Homo sapiens: one gene and its partner. The protein of the gene in region 1 interacts with the protein of each later gene in a pairwise test. Each region holds a gene or a part of one and is shown on either strand. Other genes may lie near its edges.

Evidence for each region. Proteins that work in one complex are often made in the same cells at the same time.
Region 2: the proteins of ADGRG7 (region 1) and SORT1 interact in binary tests that used the Homo sapiens proteins (3 or more experiments, as listed by UniProt).

Annotation. Positions count from the first base shown.
Region 1 is NC_000003.12:100,640,342-100,644,247, reverse strand, and holds part of ADGRG7 (adhesion G-protein coupled receptor G7 isoform 1 precursor), read right to left. Parts: intron 983-3,906; coding exon 843-982; intron 723-842; coding exon 615-722; intron 1-614. UniProt on the Homo sapiens protein: Orphan receptor.
Region 2 is NC_000001.11:109,342,419-109,346,146, reverse strand, and holds part of SORT1 (sortilin isoform 1 preproprotein), read left to right. Parts: intron 1-265; coding exon 266-396; intron 397-3,728.

The sequences.
Region 1 (3,906 bases):
TTTTTGCTTGGGGAGAAATGAAAAGTAAGTGTGTCTGTTTGATTTACTTATTTTTTTTTTAGATTTTGAAAAATACAACCACTTCAAGTTACGTGTAAGAATTTCTGAAAGGTTATATGTAGGACAATAGTGAGCACATGGTGGGCACCACAGAGAGGAGATAACCTAAAATTGATACTACTAAATGATGTCTGTGCCAATTACATAGACTTCTCCAGGGTTAGGTCTGCAGGATGCATCTGAGCCTGAGAGTGTCATGCCACTAGTAAACATGGTCAGAGCTTGTGATTGAATATGTCTTAAATTTGTAAGTGTAAAACAGAACCACCTTAGCAAGATTTTTGTAGGAAAACATATTTGTGTACATGGCCTGAACATTTCAATTCTGCTACCTTCCAAAAGGCTTTTGAAAAAAGAAAAAACAAAGAAATTATCTTTTTGACTTAGAATAGTAGAGTTGAGATTACCATAATATGTCAGAGCTCAAACTTACTCAAATGCAAATTACTCAGTATGAAACTAAGTAGACATTATTTCTCCTAGAGTAAATTAGAAGTTATTAGTTCCATGAATTCGAGTCCATTTTTTTAAATGTCACAAAGTTTGAGACTTACTTTTCGTCATATTAAGCAAGACCTGAAGCTCAGTCTGTGCATCTGGGTTAAGGCCATCCACATTTGTATGTATAAATGTTGAACTAGAAACTAGAGAACTGCTAGCTCCTATGAGAAGGGAAAGAGTAGAATTGTAAAAGTCTACATTATCATGAGTAGAGCATTATTATTCATCATCAGTAGCAGAATGCTCTTTGCTGTTACAAGCACATAAGATTAACAGCTCACCTTTCTGCACAGAGAAGCGAACATTTGAAGGCCCCACCGCATTTTCTGAAGAGAAATTTGCTGACTGTATTGCTATGTTAGGTTCCACCACTGATTGATTACCCAAAGACAAGGAATAAGTCTCCATTTGCTCAATAAGCCTGCATATAATAAAACACAATTTAATACTCAAGATTTTGTCATAAAATGAAAGGTATGTGTTCTGTCTTACACTACAGCAGAAAGACATGAGCATAGAATTGTGTGGTCATGACAACATTGACAATTGCCTAAGAATAATTGGTTTTCTTTTCTAGAGTTTTGTTGTGTTATATGTACTTAAATAAAACAGTTCTGGTGGACAGTCCTCACTGAAGGCTACCTTGAACATAGATGGCAAAAAGGTAGAACTCAAGAATTATAGAATTCCCAAAAGAAATAGTCTTTATTATGATGCTCTTCACATAGAAGGATGGTGTTGCCACCCACCATTGGCAAGGCATGCACTTCTAATTTTTTCTCCAGTGGTGAGAATCCATTTCCATTTATTCATCTTCTTCCTCTCACCCAAACCCCTTAGGATCCAAAGCATGTTTTGTAAGTTGTTCGTTCCTGAGGTGACAGTTCAGATGGAACCACCAAAGAGCAGAGCTCTGAGCTCATTGCCTCAGCTATGAACTAAACCCTGAAGGTTTTTACAATGTTCTTTTCTACTTTGGCTAAGTTCAAAGATAGATTAGATGGAAGGTGGGAGGGAGTGGGGGCAACCTGTCAATTTGGCATTCTCCAAAGAAAAGTCATAAGACCTTTTCTTTTTCTTGTTTCCCATAGAAATATTTGAACTATTTCTGTACTTGACCAAACAAAACCTCTGTATGTAAAATAATCAGTCTAGTTCTTCCAGAAATGAAAGGATTTCATCAAAATGTAGTTGTTCTATATGTCAAATCTTTATTTCTGACACTAAAATATCTTTTCTCTACCTCCAAATGAGATAAAAAGAAAGTTTACAATAATTGAGGATTGCTTTATAAAGAGAACATAATCATCATTCGTATGGAAACATTCAGGTTAGATCCTCTGATTGAAATGTTTTCCTTTTATAAAACCATTTTCAGCAATTCACACATACCCCAGAGCTGCTTTCAATGGGAGGAATACCTAACAAAACTCCCACCTGCTAAGAATATCATTCTACCAAACAGTATCTGTTGAGTATCTATGTAGAGGTCAGCACTCTGTGAAACAGTGGGAGTTCCAGGAGCTGCTCCCTCAGGCATTTGCAGGCTAAAAGGAAAGATGTGGTAGATATACAGGAGGTGTTTTTCATGTTCCCACTTTTACAGGGTTGCTCTAACCATAGCTACTTCTAAGGTCATTTTTTCTTTCTTGTACTTCTTTCCTCCTCTTGTCATAACTGATAAGATTACAGATGGGCACCTGCCCCAGAGAAGCCAATCCAGAAAGTGGTCATCCACCTGGCACAATTGACTAAAATAAGTCATCAGATTCTTGGAAACGGGGTTTTTTTTGATTAGTGCTGTAGTTATATCAGGAAAGTCATAATTTAGAGGAAGCCAGAGAGGTCATTACATCATTGTGAGAAAAACCACAAATTAAAAATAAGAGGCTAATTCTTCCTGTTGAAAATAAGAAAAGACCTGTAAACTCCTCTACTAAGGCTTCCAAAGCTGCCTTGGATCCTCAGTCATCTTCCTGCTCCAGGGTCCATATGGCAATAAAAGAAAATAAAATTTCAAGACCCTCTAAATTTATTATGTCAAAAGGAAGTTAAGCCCTGGAGACTGAATCACGTGTAGCGTGTTTGCAACTTCTGCTTATTAGATTATAGATTAACTCTCTTCCTCATTGTTCTTGTTCTGTAAATGACTAGGAGAGGCCAGACCTTTCCCCTTTCTAATGACTGATCTATGTTACAGATTAATTGCCTCCTTTTTTGTCCTGTACCTAACTCAGACCATTTAGCTCATGATTGTTACGTCTTCAGTGTAATTGTTACACCTTCAGTGTGGAATGTTAAATACACATTTCCCAAAAGAAAAAGACCACCTCAGCTAATCAGATTACTATAACCATGCATTACTATAAGCCTTATATAGAAAGCCTTATATAGAAAGACGTTAAAACTCTCTTAAGCTTCCCTAAACTTTGTTTATATAAATGATCCCAAACTTATATACTTCAAAACATTGACTTCCATTTTTTGGAATTTGTGCTTCCCAGGCAGCTGTCCTTAAACTTTGCACTTGAACGAACTCTCTTTAAACTAGATTCTGACCTTTTTGATTATTTTGGGTTGACAAGGCCCACTATATTATGATCTAGTTCTTGGGCCTCCATGAGACCCCATATGCCTATTTACGATAAATCTCTATTTGTTCAAGATATTTGAGTGGGTGCCAGGCTAGCTGGAACAGAAATAAAAAAAGAAAAGCGAAATGTAAATGTACAGGTGGTCAGTGCTAGGGAGGCATTTTGCATTCCCAAAGTCAGATAAACCAGGGTAATTATGACCTTCAATATGAGATCAAAGGTCTAAGGTTACAGATCAGACTATGCAAGCAATGTCTACAATGGTGAGGTCAGCCCGTCGCGGTGGCTCACGCCTATAACCCCAACAGTCTAGGAGGCCAAAGCAGGTGGATCACCTGAGGTCAGGAGTTCAAGATTAGCCTGATCAACATGGTGAAACCCTGTCTCTACCAAAAATACAAAAATTAGCTGGGCAGGGTTGTGCATGCCTGTAATCCCAACTACTAGGGAGGCTGAGACAGGAGAATTGCTTGAACTTGGGAGGCAGAGGTTGTGGTGAGCTGAGATCTTGCCACTGTACTCCAGCCTGGGTGACAGAGCAAGACTCCGTCTCAAAAAAAGGAAAAAAAAATGGTGAGGTGAAGTCCTAAACTCATTGATTGTACTATGATGCCCTCACCAGCAGAAACCCTACACCTCCAGAGCTCTGCCCACTTTGACAGAGTCAAAGAGTCTTTCTTCTCTGTCACTCTCCTCCCTTTTATTCTCACCCTCTCCTCTTCTCCCTATACTATAGAAAGGCAATTCAGTA
Region 2 (3,728 bases), on another chromosome or scaffold:
GTACAGATGGGGTTTCATGGTGTTAGCCAGTTTGGTCTCTATCTCCTGACCTCGTGATCCGCCCACCTCAGCCTCCCAAAGTGCTGGGATTACAGGCATGAGCCACTGCGCCTGGCCGCTGTATCACATTTTATGTTGTCACTTGATTAACATGCATAGTATTTAAAATGCTTTAGCTATAAAATTAAGATTGATTCTAAAACAACTGCTTTGAACTAGGCTCACCAGTAAGTGAAATTTTAATTAATATTTTGTCTTGTTTAAGAAGCTGACCTTGGGGCTCTGGAATTATGGAGAACTTCAGACTTGGGAAAAAGCTTCAAAACTATTGGTGTGAAAATCTACTCATTTGGTCTTGGGGGACGTTTCCTTTTTGCCTCTGTGATGGCTGATAAGGTAGGTATTGCCCTCTCCCCTTTGGGGTCTGATATTTCTGCAAATATCTCTCGTATAGATTCTCTTTATTACTTGGCATTGACAGAGTTTCTTGTCTTTTTGTTATATTTAGTACCACTGTGAGTGTTAGGGGTGATTCTTTTTGCAAAGGCTGATTGACTGATAGGCTACTCTGCACTTTGGCCTTCTGTCACCATGTGAATTCTGTTATCTTTTTTGGGATTTTTTTTTTTTTTGAAACAAAGTCTCTCTCTGTTGCCTAGGCTGGAGTGCAGTGACGCAATCTCGGCTCACTGCACCCTCCGCCTCCCAGATTAAAGCAATTCACCTGCCTCAACCTCCCAAGTAAGTGGGACTATAGGTGTGCACCACCACACCCGGATAATTTTTGTATTTTTAGTAGAGATGGGGTTTTGCCATGTTGGCCGGGCTGGTCTTGAACTCCTGAGCTCAGGTGATCCCCCCGCCTCAGCCTCCCAAAGTGCTGGGATTATAGGCGTGAGCCACCGCGCCCGGCCAGGATATTTTGATCCAGTGTTTGGGCATTACTCAGACAATGGACATCTGTAGAAAGCAATCTCTTGCTCATTATCCAAGAATAAAAATACAATTAGATAACATTAATTGAGTGCCTACTATATGCTAGGTACTATTCTAAGTCCCAGGAATATGGCAGTGAACAAAACAGATGAATTTCCTGCTCTCAGAACTTATGTTTAAGGGGGAAAATAAATACTCAAAAAATAAATATGAAGGCTGGGGGTAGTGGCTCACACTTGTAATCTCAGGACTTTGGGAGGCTGAGGCGGGTGGATCCCTTGAGCCCAGGAATTCAAGACCAGCCTGGGCAACATGACAAAACCCTGTCTCTACAAAAAATAAGAAAATTAGCCAGGCATGGTGGCATGTGCCTGTAGTCTCAGCTACTTGGGAGGCTGAGGTGGGAGGATCATCTGAGCCTGGGGAGGTTGAGGCTGCAGTGAGCTGTGATCATGCCACTGCATTCCAGCCTGGGTAACAGCACAAGACCCTGTCTCATAAATAAATATAAATGTGAGTGTGTGTGTATCAGGTAATAATTAAAGCCGCGAAGAAATCTAAAACAGTAAGAAAACAAAGTGTCAGGAGTCAGTGCTCTTTTAGACAGACTGTTTAGGATGGGCTCTCTGAGACCTAAGTGAAACAAGAACTTGACCATGTGGCCATCTGGGAGGAGAGTAGGATGAGGCACAGCCAGTGCAGAGACCCTCAGACTGGAGCATGCCCGATCAATCCAAGCAAAGGGGAGAAGGGCAGTATGGGGGGAGCACAGAGAATAATAGTCCAAAGTGGGGCCAGAGGGGGCCTGGCCAGACCTTATGTGGCCTTTGTAGATCACAATTAGGATGTGGGCCTTACTCTTCTTGTGTTGGGAGCTGTGAGAGGGTTGTGAGCAGGGGAATGCTGAGATTTGGCTTCTCTTTTGAAGAATAGGTGTGCGCAGAACAGCCTGACAGGGGCACGCGCAGAAGCAGCGGGAGCGCCGGGAGCTCTCTCAGGAGTCCAAGCTGGGGAGGTGGTAGCTTGGCCAGGCTCTTGGCAGTGGGTAAGGGGGCAGGTGGTGAGACTGTGGATACATTTTTAAACATATTACTAATAGGACTTGCTGATGGATTTGATGTGGGTTGTGAGAGAATGAGTGGAATCAAGGGTACCTTTAAGAGTCTGTATCCTGAGCGCCTGAATGGTGGTGCCATTTTCTAGGATGGCAAAGACTGCAGGAGGAGCAGGTTGTGGGAGAAAAATCAAGAATTCTGTTTTGGGCCGAGCATGGTGGCTCACGCCTTAATCCCAGCCCTTTAGGAGGCTAAGACGAGCAAATCACTTGAGGTCAGGAGTTTGAGAGCAGCCTGGCCAACATGGCGAAACCCTGTCTCTACTAAAAGATACAAAAAATTAGCCAAGCGTGGTGGCGCAGGCCTGTAATCCCAGCTACTCGGGAGGCTGATGCACAAGAATCAACTGGACTGTGGAGACGGAGGTTGCAGTGAGCCAAGATCATGCCACTGCACTCCAGCCTGGGAAACAGAGTGAGACTCTGTCTCAAAAAAAATAAAAAAAGAATTCAGTTCTGCATATGAGACACCTATTAGATATCTGAATGGAGATGTCAAGTGAGCATTTGGGTATATGAATCTCCCTAATTGCTATGGTATTTGAAGCCATGTGACCAGATGATACCTTCTGGAGGAGTAAGTAGGTAGCAAAGAGGTGGGAGGACTGAGCAAGCCCTGAAGCACCCACAACTGAAAGGTTGGAAAGAGAAGAATCCAGCAAAGAAGACTGAGAGGGAGGGATCCGGGAGGAAGAGGGAAATCAGGACCATTGAGTTAGGTGCATTCTGAGAATTATCCACTGGAGTTGGCGACGTGGAGGTTGTTGGTGACCTTGACAAAAGCACTTCATTGGAAGTTAAAAGGCCGATTGGAGTGACTTCAGTGAGAACTAGAGATGAAGAAGTAGGCAGTAAATACAGATAACTCTCCAAAGCCATTTTGTAATATCCTCCCAATAACCCTGTGAGCTAATAGTATTACCTCAGTTTTATAGGTGAGGAAATTGAGTAACTTACCTAGGGTCAACCAGTAGTGGAATCCTGCTGGAAATCAGACTCAAATTCCAGAGGTAGCTTCCTATGCTATACTGCATATATGGTATAATGCTGTCTACAGAATTAAAATTTTGCGATGTACTTTTGAACTCTGGTTTCTACCTACAGTAATGAGAATAAGATTCAAAGTAATGAGACATGTTGGTATAAGTTGAATAAGTTAAATGTACTTATCACTGAACTTTAAAGAGTATTTAATCTAAGGAAACACCGACATTAATTCTCATGCTCAGGCTAACTGTATCTAGTAGCGATGTTAAGCTATTTATCAGAGAGTTAAGTTTTAATTGCTTTCTTAACAGACTCTTTTCGTCAGCCAAATACTCCCTAATCAGTTTCCTTATAGTAATTTCCGACTCTCCTTGGCCTCTTTCCAGCCCATGCCTGTTCCCTTCATCCTGGCTATTCTGAGAGACTTCCTTAGAGAGAAGGCGTGTTACATCTTGACTTCCCTTGTGATCTCCCAAACATGGGTTTCATCTCTATTTTCTAGACCCTTAAGTATATAATTCTTTAAATTATGCAAGCACTGTATGAAAGGGACCAAACTTTTATGCAGTAGTCATCATTTTAAGAATTACCTGAGTGTATGCAAATGGCTATAAAGCCAACCTAATGTTCTCATCAAATCCTTAGCTCTACTGAAGGAGGTGGACTATCAGAGACCAAGACTATACTATCT